2 linked regions of the Homo sapiens genome follow. The gene in region 1 interacts genetically with each later gene. Each region holds a gene or a part of one and is shown in the gene's direction. Other genes may lie near its edges.

What was found.
Region 2: changes in TM4SF1 (region 1) and CSK are lethal when combined (synthetic lethality), as found in Homo sapiens cells (one large-scale study listed by BioGRID).

The regions. Positions count from the first base shown.
Region 1 is NC_000003.12:149,374,772-149,379,261, reverse strand, and holds the start of TM4SF1 (transmembrane 4 L6 family member 1), read left to right. Parts: upstream 1-1,612; 5' UTR 1,613-1,714; coding exon 1,715-1,891; intron 1,892-3,492; coding exon 3,493-3,582; intron 3,583-3,673; coding exon 3,674-3,819; intron 3,820-4,490.
Region 2 is NC_000015.10:74,795,540-74,799,351, forward strand, and holds part of CSK (tyrosine-protein kinase CSK), read left to right. Parts: intron 1-2,672; exon of another isoform or gene 2,673-2,693; 5' UTR 2,694-2,758; coding exon 2,759-2,773; intron 2,774-3,075; coding exon 3,076-3,189; intron 3,190-3,286; coding exon 3,287-3,399; intron 3,400-3,732; coding exon 3,733-3,812. UniProt on the Homo sapiens protein: Non-receptor tyrosine-protein kinase that plays an important role in the regulation of cell growth, differentiation, migration and immune response.

The DNA.
Region 1 (4,490 bases):
TAGTGGTGACCCAATGACACTCTTATGAGGATTTGCCTGCCTCCGCCTGAGCAGGTGGGTGGTTCCACGCTTCCCAACTCCACTGATTTATTTCCTCAGGCCATCCTGGATTCTGGCTTCACCCCTGTTAGTGTGCTGAGGCCACACTTCTTGGGCCCTCCTCCGGTCCCATGCCACATCACTAACCACAGCTGGTCTCCTCAAATTTGGTATGTGTCCCGCCCTCTAGTTCCGGGCCAAATCCTTCAGACTCTAGATTCGTGAACCTCATTCACCTTCTTCTTCTAAGCTAATGCCTCCCTACCTTGGTCCTTTTCTATTTTCTGTACTCTCTATCTTGTCCTGGTGACAAGGCCCTCCAGGCCTGGCCCCACCCGGCCACCCTGTCCACCTCCCACCACCATCCACTGGCTGGTGCAATCTGCTGTTCAAGGCATAAATTTATTCAGTGCCCAGCCCCTCCTTCTGCAAGGTAACCACCTAGAAAGTTAGTCTAACACCCTTTCTCTGCCCTGTGTGGGGAGCCTGTGGAAGCTGGTCTCAGGATCTGGCTGGGTAAACCATCTGTTTACCTCTGTGTGGGTTCTGACACTCCTAGCCAGTTCTGTTTCTCTGAACCTTGTTTCTCCACTCTGCTTGCCAAGTCCCTTTGTCTTATTTTTTTCTCCCTCTCCCTCCTTCCTTCCCTCCCCCCATCCTTCCTTCCTTTTTTCCTTCCTTCCTTCCTCCCTCCCTCCCTTCCTCCCTTTTTCCCTCTCTCCTTCTCTCCCTCCTTCTCTTCTTTCCTTCCTCTCTTCCTTCCTCCTTTCCTCTTTCCTTCTCTCCCATTCTCTTCCTCCCCCTCTCTTCTTCCTCTTTTTATTTTTGTCCCATGCTTTAGGCCTTCCTTGGCCCTTCCTGGCATTGCTTTTCCTGACAGCAACACTCAATAATTTTTAAAAAGCACCTGAGCCCTTTGTGTTGACTGATGCCACCTCTGTTGTGGTGCAGATTTGTTTTAGAGGCAGATGTCCAGGGACGCTGAACACTGAAATCCATCCTGCAGAGCTTGCTGTAGGCAGAGTAAAGAAGTTTGCTCTGTAGTTTTCCCAACAGCCTTCTCAAATCCATGGGAGACGTCTCAGACACCTTGTATTTAATAGACAAGGAAATGAGCTCAGGAGATTTGCCCCAGGTTGTAAATTAAATCAGCACAAAGGTAGAAATGAACACAGAGCTCTCAGATTGGAAGCTGTCCAGACAGCTGCATGGAGCAGGGGCACAGCTCACTGTCTTTCAAAGCCTCAACCAGGGCTGTTGCATCTCGGACACTTGGCAGTTACTGGAAAGTCATGTTAGGCTTTCCTGTTGATTCTTTATCTTGTGGAGGAGTTGCACAGTCAATGCCTTGTTCAAGATTAATCATTTTCCCTGTTGCCTATGACTGAGGCTGTTTCTCACATCCTGCCCCTGGTTTTGCCTGTCCCAAGGATTTCGTCTGAAGGGCGGGACATTCCCCCTGCCTCTTCGCACCACAGCCAGAGCCTGCCATTAGGACCAATGAAAGCAAAGTACCTCATCCCCTCAGTGACTAAGAATCGCAGTATTTAAGAGGTAGCAGGAATGGGCTGAGAGTGGTGTTTGCTTTCTCCACCAGAAGGGCACACTTTCATCTAATTTGGGGTATCACTGAGCTGAAGACAAAGAGAAGGGGGAGAAAACCTAGCAGACCACCATGTGCTATGGGAAGTGTGCACGATGCATCGGACATTCTCTGGTGGGGCTCGCCCTCCTGTGCATCGCGGCTAATATTTTGCTTTACTTTCCCAATGGGGAAACAAAGTATGCCTCCGAAAACCACCTCAGCCGCTTCGTGTGGTTCTTTTCTGGCATCGTAGGAGGTGGCCTGCTGGTAAGTCATTCAGGATTATTACTGAATTCTCTCCTGTTTCCTAGATGTTTTCATTATGTATTTTCATGGAAAGTTTTTTGTAATGCATATTTCTAAATCAAGTGACTTTTTTGTTGCTGTTCATTCCTTTGAAAGCAGATTATACAAAAGCGAGATTGGTACAGTATAGCGTAGTAATTTTATGAGATGTTGTTTTACAAAATGCTCTTTCAACTAAAAGTGAACTGCCTTTTTGCTAAACTCTATAGGTAGGAAACAGATATTCGCTTTTAAATCAGATTTGAGAGACTATAGAGTTTCTACTAGAACGGGCAGTCATTTAACATTTGCTCTGGGGAGCCGGAAGGGGTTGGCTGGTTCTCTGCCTAAATCAACAGTTTTGAATCCAAATTCTCTGCTGTTTATTTTCAGCCATCTGTGATAGGGAAAAATAATGAATTGTGAGTGCATTGCTATTTTAAAAGAACTCTAAGCTTTCTCCTTTATGTAAGGCTGGGGTGTGGCGTCTAGGAAAAACCCTACAGTTAGCAGCAGGTCGGTGTCTGAAGCTAATAGTGGAATGTGTTATTTTTTCCAAGAATTGTTTTTGATTGAAGTGAGAGGAATTTCCCTGCCAACCTGGGAGCTGAAAGCATTAGCTTCAACCACAGCATGGAAAGAATGTGAGCAAACTTAAGTTTGCTACTTTAAAGTGCTGGGATTAAAAATTTTAAGGAGAAATTTTATGGAATGGTACCATACGTGATAAATTTTCTTAATCAAGTAAAAGATAGTAAAACATTTAAACCTAATACACTGATTATGGCATGGCAAATCTGCCCTAAATTATTTATTTAATGAGATTTTATTTAATTTTATTTTATTTAATGAGACGGGGTTTCGCCATGTTGCCCAGGCTGGTCTTGAACTCATGGGCCCAAGTGACCCTCCTACCTTGGCCTCCCAAAGTGCTGGGATTACAGGCATGAGCCACAGTGCCCGTCTGCCTCAAATTTAAGCATTATTATCATGTTAACATGATTATTTGTCTTAAACATAACATCACACTTAAGTTTCTTTCGATCTTGAACCTGAAGTATTTCATATTTACTATATTTTAAGAGCTTAATATTGTTAAGTTAAAACTATGCATTTGTATAATCAAGGAAGCAGTTAATATTTATTATATATAGCTTTCATGTCTCCCATTTACAAAAAAGTTTCAGTTATTCTATTAAAGATTTGTTGGTATATTCTGCATTTTACAAGTGGAAAAAATCAGATTTAAAGAAAGGGTTTAATATTTCCAAAACAGAGTTTGTTATCTGGGGTCGTGTGATAAACTCTTGTGGAATAAACACGTTTACAGTTTATTATTTTACTCCTCCCATGTTACATCCTCACCCTAAAAAATGCTTTGACAGATTACATGAAAACAAGCAGATATGACATTTAAATGGTCTTTTTCTCCTCAGAGGTTTACATTCTTTGAGATATCTGGTCAACCTAATCAAAGCCAGTTAATGTCATTGGAAATAAATATATTTTACCAAGAGATGCCTAACCTGACCCATATGAGCCTGAGCAAGACAATGACCTGACTTTGTTTGTTTCCTAACCAGATGCTCCTGCCAGCATTTGTCTTCATTGGGCTGGAACAGGATGACTGCTGTGGCTGCTGTGGCCATGAAAACTGTGGCAAACGATGTGCGGTAGGTCCTCCTGCCCTGGTGGTGAAAATGACTCCTAAGATGTAGCTGTGGCACTCTGTGGCTCACTTCCTGTGTGTCTGCTTTTCCCTAGATGCTTTCTTCTGTATTGGCTGCTCTCATTGGAATTGCAGGATCTGGCTACTGTGTCATTGTGGCAGCCCTTGGCTTAGCAGAAGGACCACTATGTCTTGATTCCCTCGGCCAGTGGAACTACACCTTTGCCAGCACTGAGGGCCAGTATGTAATTACTCTCTACATGGCTACACATTTTTATCCACCACATGTATATAGTGGCAGCTCTATCAAACCAGATAGGCATCCACTTATCCATCCATCCACCCACCTAGCCAGTGTTTATTCTCACTGACTCAGGCATGGTTTAGGCAATAGGTATCCAAGGATGGATCCCCAGTCCCCGACCTAAACAAATTCTAAATGCTTCTTTTCTTTTCTTTCTTTCTTTTTTTTTCCCCCAGAGACAGGGTCTTGATCTGTCACCCAGGCTAGAATGCAGTGGCACAATCATAGCTTACTGCAGCCTCTAACTCCTGAGCTCAAGCAATACCCCTTCCTCAGCTTCCCAAATACAGAGTGCTTTTGAATAGATTCAATAATTCAGTCCTTATAATAACCCTATGAAGTGACTTCCTATTTTAAAGATGAGGAAACAAAATCACAGAGAGATGGAGTAATTCATCCAAGGTCACGTTGCCAGAAAGTGGCAGTTAGCATTTGAACCCAGGCAGTCTAGATGTAGAGTTTGTGTTCATATAGTGCATCTCAATTACTTCATACATTATACCAGAACAATTGCCTGATTAAGTGTAATACATTTTACTACTTTATAAGAAAGTATTATAGAATCCATATATAATAAGAATGGCAACTATATGAATTTAACCCAAGCC
Region 2 (3,812 bases), on another chromosome or scaffold:
AGAAAGGAAACAGTAGTTCCAGCCCCTCTGCTTCCTGAGACAGGTCCAAGGGGGCTCTGGGCTGGGATTACAAAGTATGTGTGTGCAGACGGGTGGGTTGCTGCTCTCAGGGAATGGGGTTGGCTAGGGTAGCTTTTTTGGGGAGTCAACTTTATTGAAGTAAATATACGGTTGACCCTTGAACAACACAGGGGTTGAGGGCATCAACCTCCTCCCTGCAGTCAAAAAATCATATATTAACTTTTGACTCCTCAAAAACTTAACTACTAATAGCCTATTGTTGTCAGAAAGCCTTGTAGATAAAGTTGATTGACACTCATTTTGTTTGTTATATATATTATATACTGTATTCTTACAATAAAGTAAGCTAGTGAAAATAAAATAAGAAAATCATATGGCCGGGTGCAGTGGCTCACACCTGTAATCTCAGCACATTGGGAGGCTGGGGCAGGCGGATCACTTGAGGCCAGGAGTTCAAGACCAGCATGGCCAATATGGTGAAACCCTGTATCTACTAAAAATACAAAAATTGGTCTGCTGTGTTGGCGCACGCCTATGATCCCAGCTACTCAGGTGGTCAAGGCATGAGAATCACTTGAACCTGGGAGGCGGAGGTAGTTGCAGTAAGCCGTGAGTCACCCCACCACTGCGTTCCAGCCTGGGCGACAGAGTCTTGCTGTCTCAAAAAAAAAAAGAAAGAAAATCATAAGGAAGAGGAAATATATCTACTATTCTTTAAGTCGAAGGGGATCATTATGAAGGTCTTCATCCTTCACATTGAGTAGGCTGAGGAGGAAGAGGAAGAGTTGGTCTTGCCGTCACAGAGGTGGCAGAGGTGGAGGCGGAGGAGGTGGAAAGGAAGGCAGAAAAGGCAGGCACACTCAGTGTAACTTACTGAAAAACATCCAGCCACGTGTGGTGGCGCATGCCTGTGGTAATCGCTACTTAGGAGGCTGAGGCAGGAGGATTGGCTGAACCCAGGGGTTTGAGGCTGCTGTGAGCTATGATCACGTCACTGCACTCCTGCCTGGGCAACAGAGTGAGACCCTTTCTCAAAAAAAAAAAAAAAAGAAAAGAAAAAGAAAAAATCCATGTGTAACTGGACCTGCGCAGTTCAGACCCGAGTTGTTCAAGTGTGCACTATACACCAAAAAGTGTGCCGATCGCAATGGTACAGCTCAGTGAATTGTCACAGAGTGGACCCACTTCATGATTGGGCTCAGACAGTCTGAAAACCAACCCCAGAGGTCCCCTTGCATTCCTTCCAGTCTCCCTGTCCCAAGAGCAGCTATCCTGACAGCATGGATTAGTTTGGCCAGATTTTGAACTTTATTCAAATGGAATTACATAATATGTACTTTCCTGTGTCTGGCTTCTTGGTTAACATTTTATTTATTTATTTATTTATTCATTCATTTAGAGGCAGGGTCTCACTCTGTCGCCCAGGCTGGAGTGCAGTGGTGTGACCTTGGCTCACTGTAGCCTTGACCTCCCCAGGCTCAAGCGATCCTCCCACCTCAGCCTCCTGAGTAGCTGGGAGTACAAGCACGCAGTACCACCCCCGGCTAATTTTTGTATCTTTAGTAGAGACCGGGTTTCGCCATGTTGCCGAGACTGGTCTTGAACTCCTCCTGGGTTTAAGCCATCTGTCTGCCTCAGCTTCCCAAAGTGCTGAGATTACAGGTGTGAGCCACTGTGCCTAGCCATCATTATGTTTTGAAATTTATCGGGATTGGCCAGGCACGGTGACTGGCACCTGTAATCCCAGCATTTTGGGAGGCCGAGGTGGGTGGATCACCTGAGGTCAGGAGTTCGAGACCAGCCTGGCCAACATGGTGAAACCCCATCTCTACTGAAAATACAAAAATTAGCTGGTTGTGGTGGTGCATGCCTGTAATCCCAGCTACTCAGGAGGTGGAGGTTGCAATGAGCCGAGATTGTGCTACTGCACTCCAGCCTGGGTGACAGAGCCAGACTCCATCTCAAAAAAAGAAAAGAAAAGAAATTCATCAGTGTTATTTAATGGTTGGAGTTTGTGTTGGAGTTTATTTAATGGTTGGTGTTTACTGCTGTACGTAGTCCCTTTTGTGAATATGCCACTGTTTATCCATTTTCCTCTGGATCGGCATCTGGGCAGCTCCCAGTTTGAGGTTTATTACAAAGCATGCCACTTGTAGCCCTCCTGTGCCTGTCTAGGCAGACACATGTCCTGTGTCCTCTCGGTGTGTACCTAGAAGTGGGGTTGGTATATGTTTAGAGATGCTACCTGGGCGGGATTTTGCAGGTGAAGGACCCAAGGACCCACAGAGCATAAGGGACTTTCTCAGATCACATAGCCCCTTCTCAGAGCTGCTCCGGGGCCCCTTTCCCCACAGAACAGTAGCTGGAACCAGGCCTGGGGCTGACGGTCAGGTGTCCATTGTCCCACTAGCCCCCTTTGCTCCTTTCTATCAGTCCTGGAAGGCCCCCTGTGGCCTTAGGGTTGGTGGCTCCCTCTGCCCCTGGGGGTCCTCAGCCCTCATGCTCCTCTACCCAGTACCGTCAGCCTGCCAGGACTGGAGAGAATGGCCCATGTGTCAAATCCCAGCGCAGGACACTCTTGGCACCTGTTCATGCCCAGTGAGGAGCCAGATCTCAGCAGTTGGGGGGCATTTCTTCACACCCCTCCTCAGTCTTCATGCTCTTCCCCACAGCTCTAATGGTACCAAGTGACAGGTTGGCTTTACTGTGACTCGGGGACGCCAGAGCTCCTGAGAAGATGTCAGCAATACAGGTACCACAGGGGTGAGGGTCTGGGACATGCAAGCATTCCCACCAGCCCCAGCGGGGTGCTTAGCAGAGGAGAGAGGATGCAGCTTAGATCAACCCACTCCCCTTTTTCCCAGCACTCAGTCAGGTACAGGCCTGGGGAAGTGGGGGAGTCTCAACAGGAAGGGACCCAGGGCTCGTTCTCCGGGCAGAGCACCTCACCCAGGCTCACAGAGGCCAGCTCAGAGGCTGTGACCACGAGGGTGCGCCAGCAGGTGGCTGGAGGGGGCCCAGGCTGCACCCGCCCACGTGTCACCTGCCTTGCAGGCCGCCTGGCCATCCGGTACAGAATGTATTGCCAAGTACAACTTCCACGGCACTGCCGAGCAGGACCTGCCCTTCTGCAAAGGAGACGTGCTCACCATTGTGGCCGTCACCAAGGTAATCAGGTGACGCCCACCCCACCATCCCACTGCTGGGCCTTCCCTCTGCAGGGGGAGGTGGGCCTGAGAGCATGTCTGGGCTGCCCTCTCCCCAGGACCCCAACTGGTACAAAGCCAAAAACAAGGTGGGCCGTGAGGGCATCATCCCAGCCAACTACGTCCAGAAGCGGGAGGGCGTGAAGGCGGGTACCAAACTCAGCCTCATGCCGTGAGTACCACGAGGAGGGGTTGGGGAGGGAAGGGGCCTTGGTCCTCCTGAAGGAGCATCAGGAGCAAGCAGGGAGGCCAGAGTGAGGGGCTTGGGTGTTGGGGAGGGCCTCAGGAGGAGGTGCAGGGTGCGGGTGCGGGACCTCACAGAGCAGGGCTGGGGGCAGAGGCAGGAGGGTGGCAAAGAAGGGACAGGGAGCAGAAGAAGAGGGCCTCAAATGCCTGACTGAGCGAGTGCGAGCCACGGGTGCCAAGCAGAGGGAACCCCTTCAGAAAGGGGAGCCAGGGTCAGTACCTTTGGGCCACCATGACCTCCAGCCCTGCTGCTCCCCAGTTGGTTCCACGGCAAGATCACACGGGAGCAGGCTGAGCGGCTTCTGTACCCGCCGGAGACAGGCCTGTTCCTGGTGCGGG